Regions from separate parts of the Homo sapiens genome. Here region 2 is linked to region 1. Evidence: fine-mapped QTL for protein levels in blood plasma. Region 1 holds a variant in brackets. A gene starts in the other region. All regions are shown on their reverse strands.

Region 1 (2,905 bases):
TGTGTTGGTTACAATCCTCCAATTTCGGAATATCAGACTCCCATTTTTTCTCCCAGGAAATGAAACTACCTTCCCAAGCTCCCTTTCTGTGCTATATCCAGCTCTCATACTTTCCAGCCTCAGATATAGGTTTTCCAGCATTCCTAATGACAAATTCCTTGAGTGAAGGATCCACACCTCATTCTTACTTCATTGTCATCTATAGTGATGGCAGTATGTCAGAACCATTCTTCAGTAAATGCTGGCTGAAAGAGTAGATGATGAATGGGGGCTCAGGTGGGTGTTTGTAAGGTTCTAAAGGAAGTTAATATCTAGTATCAATTTTACTTACACAAGAAGAAATCATATGAGCATTTACTGGCTTTAATGCTTTATCTTGTGACCACTGAACAGACCTTTTAGAGCAGGTGTTGGCAAATCAGGCAGTAAATATTTTAGGTTTTGTGGGTCATAAGGTCTCTGTCACAACTATCCAACTCTGCTGTTCTTTCATGGTAGCAGCCATAGACAATATGTAAATGATGACTATGTTGCAGTAAAACTTTGTTTACGATCATCAAATTTTGAATTCATATAATTTTCGTAGCCCTGAAATATTCTTCCATTTTTAACCATGAAATATTGCAAAAAACATTCTTAGCTTGTGGGCTGTACAAGAACAGGCAGCAAACTGTAGTTGCTAACCTGTGGCCTAGACAGGCAAACCTAGGATTAGAAGCACTGAGTAAGGCCGTACAATTGTGTGCTGAAAACCCATTCAGAAGGGAAAGTCCAAGGTGGAATGTAGGAGGCTGTTACTTTTCTTTTGACCCCCACATTTTTCCTCCCTCGGATCATTCCGTATCTTTTTCCTATTTGCTTTGCCGGGATTGTTCTCAATCAATGTGCATACTTTCTCATACCTCAGGCGTTATGTCTCTCGTGGCCGTTTGTGTTTAAATTGAGGGTTTGGGGAAGACTGAAAAACATTCAAGACCCAAAGTAACAGCTTTCTCATGAAGCGTTTACACGCATTGAGAGATATCGTTCCATTGGTGTGAATAAGTCTCTATGTACACACCTGATGAAATATAATGCTGGCTTCTAGTCCCCTCACAAAAGAAACAGGCTTCCTGTTTGCGTGACTTGGGGGCGACTCCTGCTTTTCCCTGGCTGCCCATCAGTTGGCGCCTTTTGCCGTCCTTTTTCCCCAAGCCGCTTTGGGGGCCGCGGTCTCTCCGCAGCTCGCGGGTCACATGGCCCGCCTGAGCAAGGGGAGCCCTGCGCCTGAGCTGCGAGGCGGGAGGAGGTGAGGCTCCGGCGCACACCCAAACCGCGCTGCGCCCGCTCCTTCCGGGCCCCGGAGATGGCGCCTCCACCGGGATGAGCTAGCCAGCCTGGGCAATACCAGAGGCGGCCCTCGGCGCGCGCAGGGGACCGAGCTGGTCGCCCCAACCGGGTAGGTTTCTGTTGCGCACGATCTGCCCAGCCCTTCTGGCGCGGTGGTCGGAGCCCTGGACACTAGAGCGAGGGGACAAGGATTAGGGGTGGCCACAGCTGGCACAAGCAGGGCAGCTGGGGGTTGGGGAGAGTCATCGCAGAGGGCCTGTGCCCCGGGC[A/G]GTGCGCCTCGGGCAGGCGGGTTGCCTAGCGGCCCTGCCCGCAGCTCCGACCGCTTCCTGCCGGAGGATTGCGAGGACCCCGCAGGGGTCCCCAGGGCAGCAGGGGCCCGCATCAGTGCGGGGATGGTTGAGTGTCTCGGGGGCGCCTCCCTGGCCCTTGCCTGCGCCAGCTGCGCTGACAGGTCAATAGAAGGACGCGAGCGGGGCGCGTGCCAGTCTGGGTAAGACCCTCGCCGAGCCTAGCAGGGCCGAAGCGCCAAGGGGCCTGGCGCCTAATGGCCGCCCGCAAGCAGGGGACCCTCGCGGCGCGTCCACACCTTAGGTTCGCCGGGCGCGCCGAGAGCGCGGCAGCAGTGTTGGGTTTCTGCGGGCGACCTCGCAGCCAAGGGCTGGGGGAGGGCGACTGGGCAGAGGAAGGCGTCCCTCCCAGGACCAGGAAAAACCAGCAGAAGGGAAGGAGCGCAGCGATGGAGACGGTCAGCTCGGCCTACGGGTGGGAAACTGAGGCTCAAGCGTGGCAGGGACTGCCCAAGGTCAGCGACAGACACTAGATCCAGGGCCCTGGACATCGTCCCCCATTCTTTTTCCAAGAGGGAGGGTTAATTAGATCCACCTGGGTGTGTCTCGCCCTCTTTCTGGCCCTTGGCTCCGGCGTCGCTAGTGTCGCACTGCGCTCGCGGTGTCTTGGGGCGTGAGCTCCTGCAGGGTCGTTGTGACCCGCATCCTCTGCTCGGCCCAGGCTCTCTCCGGGGGACCGCAGGGCGGCTCCAATGATGATCTCACCATGCGGACCATTAGCAACACATGCGGGTGTGTGTGCGCGTGCATGTGTGTGTTTCTCCTTCTATAGGGGAAATAGCTTTTTTTTTTAGGGGTGAATTTCTAGAATGCACTGCACTAGGTACTTTATGAGGTGAGAAGAGAAAATCAACATTATTAGAATTATTAGAATGTTGTAAGGATACACATATTAGAAAACATCCAGTAAACAAAAATCCAAAGGAGAAGCAAAATAAAAATAACTTAAAACTTCAACTTCTAGATGGTTTAGATTTTCTGCATATCTTAAAATTTTCTCTATGTATACACATTTGAAGTTTTAAATCAAAAGCGTGGACCAAAAAATGGTATCTTGTCTTAATTTGCATGTCTTTGATTACCCATGGGAATTAACACTTTTTCCTCTGTGTAGTAGCCTTTTGCATTTCTGTAGGTGAGTTGATTGTTAATTCTTCTGCCCATTTTTCAGTTGGAGTATCTTTCTCCTCCTGACTTTTAAACACTTTATGTGTATTACACATTGAAGT
Region 2 (2,905 bases), not on the chromosome of region 1:
CTTTTATTTTTTTGGATACGGAGTCTCGCTCTGTCACTCAGGCTGGAGTGCAGTGGCACGATCTCAGCTCACCGCAACCTCCGCCTCCCGGGTTCACGCCATTCTCCTGCTTCAGCCTCCCGAGTAGCTGGGACTACAGGCGCCCGCCACCACGCCCGGCTAATTTTTTGTATTTTTTATTAGAGACGGGGTTTCACCGTGTTAGCCAGGATGGTCTCGATCTCCTGACCTCATGATCTGCCCACCTCGGCCTCCCACAGTGTGGGGATTACAGGCGTGAGCCACCGCGCCCGGCCACAGCTTTGATTTTCATTCAGCAAATCCTTTCCACCTGGAAGGAAATTGTGGGGCCGGACAACAGGCCCTGCTCTTAGCTGGGCGGGAAGGCAGATGACTGCGCAGAGAATTCCAGAACAGAGAGTAAGTCCGGGGACTCGGCGCTCCTCACACAGCCTCTGAGAACTCTTCCTGGAGGAAGGGGTACGTGAGCTGAGTCCCAAGGGTGCCTAGGACCGCACTGGGCGCCACAAGGAAGGAACAGCCGGCACAGTGGACAAGCGGGGTTGTGGGGCCTCTGGAGGGCCTGGCGGGTCCAGACCTCATCCTAGGGACCACGGGGAGGGCCAGTGGGAGGACAGCGGCGGGTCTGAGAGCAGCTCTCCCACCTCCTTGAGTCCCAGGAAGCCGCCGCGTCCCCTGCCCCACACACCTGGCCCCAGTTTCCTAGAATCCCAGGAAGCAGCCGCGTCCCCTGCCCCACACACCTGGCCCCAGTTTCCTAGAATCCCAGGAAGCAGCCGCGTCCCCTGCCCCACACACCTGGTGCCAGCCTCCTAGAATCCCAGGAAGCTGCCTCGTCCCCTGCCCCACACACCTGGTCCCAGCCTCCTAGAATCCCAGGAAGCCGCCCCGTCCCCTGCCGCACACACCTGGCCTCAGCCTCCTAGAATCCCAGGAAGCCGCCGCGTCCCCTGCCCCGCACGCCTGGTCCCAGCTTCCACCCACAGTGGTGCCCTGGGGTCCCCGGGCCTGCACCACCCCAGGTGGGCACCCCAGTACCCTGGCGCACCGACTCCCCAGCCCACTCACCCTGGCCTCTGCGATGCAGACTTGCTCCCTGGCAGGGCCCGGCCTAGGCAGCTCCCACGCCAGGCTCACAGCTGGGCTGGCCCTACCCGGCCACCTGCTGCCCCTCCCAGGCCCCTCCTCAGGAAGGTGAAACTGCCCCATTTCCTGCAGGAACCCTGTGTTCTCTGAAAGTAGAAAGAGGAGGGAAATGGAGGAGGGGAGGGGAAGGTTGGAGAGAAAGGGCCAGGGGTCGGAAGGAAGGGCTGCAGGAGGGAGAGAGGAGGAGGGAGAGAGGAGGAGGGAACTTTGCTCCAGGAGATGGCTCTGCGTCCTGACCTCCCCCAAGGCTAGAAACTTCTCCAGCAGCTTCCTCATTTCCTGAGAGTGCCCTGAGATGTCCTGGCAGTGTTTTTCCCTCATGTGTGGATGTGCCACCTCCCAGCCAGGGGGGTGCGTGCACAGCTGTGCTGTCCAGCTCTGTGATGTCAGATCTTAGAGAATGCTACACATCAGTACACATAAGCCATCTGTGTCCTTTTTCTCATGCATTTTCGTTGTGAAAATACAACATGTATACCAACAAGACATATAGGTGTTGGGAGGGAAACTGAGGCAGGGCTTGCATGATGTCCTTTGGAATGTGTCTAGACTTGCTGGCTCCTTCCTTCTAGCCCTCCTAGGCCCCTATTCCCATTATCTCAAGTAGCAGAACATGCTCCATATAAATGCTAAACCGGCACAGCTGTAATCATGTGCTTAATGCAACGTGGTCTTTTGACCTCCATATTCTCACCATCTGTTTCTTTGTTGCATTACCAATAAATACCGTGGGCTCCCAGAGCTCGGGCTTTTGCAGCCTCCACAATAGCGATGGCCCCCTGGTGTGCCACCTTTCTCTCTCTGTGTTTTTCTGAATCCTTTGACTCCGCCGGACTTTGTCACCCCCACGACCTGGGGTTGGGTCTGATCACCCCAACATATAGGTACTGTACCTTTACACAGAAACTACACAGGTGTTCGTAGCAGGACAATTTAGTATAGCCAAAATGTGGGAAGAGTGCAGATGCCCAACACGGGGACAGATAAATGTGTCTCTTCACGCAGTGGAGTATTACTCAGCCATGAAGAAGAGTGACGTGCTGACACGTGCTATAACATGAAGAACCTCAGAAACATTTCGCTAAGTGGCAGAAGCCAGATAGTCGGGTGTGGTGGTGCGCACCTGTGGTCTCTGCTGTGAGGCTGAGGCAGGAGGAGCGCCTGAGCCTGGGAGACTGAGGTTACAGTGAGCTGCGATCACGCCATTGCACTTCAGCCTGGGCCGCAGAGTGGGAGCCTGTCTCAGAAAAGAAAGAAAGAAGCTAGACTCAAAAGACCACATGTCGTGTGATTCCACTTATATGAAATGTCCAGAATAAGTGACTCCATAGACACAGAAGGTGGATTCATGGTTGTTGAGGCTGTGAAGGAAAGTGGGGAGTGGGTGCTAATGGGAATGGGTTTCTATTTGGGGCAATGACTTTTTTTTTTTTTTTTTTGAGACAGAGTCTTGCTCTGTCGCCCAGGCTGGAGTGCAGTGGCGCGATCTCAGCTCGCTGCAACCTCCACCTCCTGGCTTCACGCCATTCTCCTGCCTCAGCCTCCCGAGTAGCTGGGACTACAGGCGCCCGCCACCACGCCCGGCTAATTTTTTGTATTTCTTTTTTAGTAGAGACGGGGTTTCACCGTGTTAGCCAGGATGGTCTCGATCTCCTGACCTCGTGATCCGCCCGCCTCGGCCTCCCAGTGTGATACCCAACCTTGTTTTAACCTAAGTGACCTTCTCGTAGCAGAGAGA

Alleles and levels. Positions count from the first base shown, and alleles are read on the strand shown. Strength reflects both the effect of a copy and how common the allele is.
As copies of G replace A in region 1, the plasma level of the protein whose gene starts at base 1,167 in region 2 goes down (weak association).

Evidence for each region. PIP is the chance, under the fine-mapping model, that this variant and not a neighbour inherited with it causes the effect. The UK Biobank Pharma Proteomics Project read protein levels with antibody pairs (Olink). The fine-mapping took linkage between variants from a reference panel, not from the people measured, so its PIPs are less certain.
Region 2: DPEP1 starts here. The variant in region 1 is fine-mapped to the plasma level of the DPEP1 protein (UK Biobank, PIP 0.91).

Annotation. Positions count from the first base shown.
Region 1 is chr9:101,485,482-101,488,386 of GRCh38, reverse strand. PGAP4 (post-GPI attachment to proteins GalNAc transferase 4) reads left to right here and starts at 1,214. Exons shown (of 2, transcript NM_032342.3): 1 at 1,214-1,438. The variant A/G (reference allele first, on the strand shown) is at 1,599.
Region 2 is chr16:89,611,904-89,614,808 of GRCh38, reverse strand. It overlaps DPEP1 (dipeptidase 1), which reads right to left and starts at 1,167. Exons shown (of 11, transcript NM_001389466.1): 1 at 1,090-1,167. RefSeq lists an enhancer at 1-3 and a silencer at 1,409-1,567.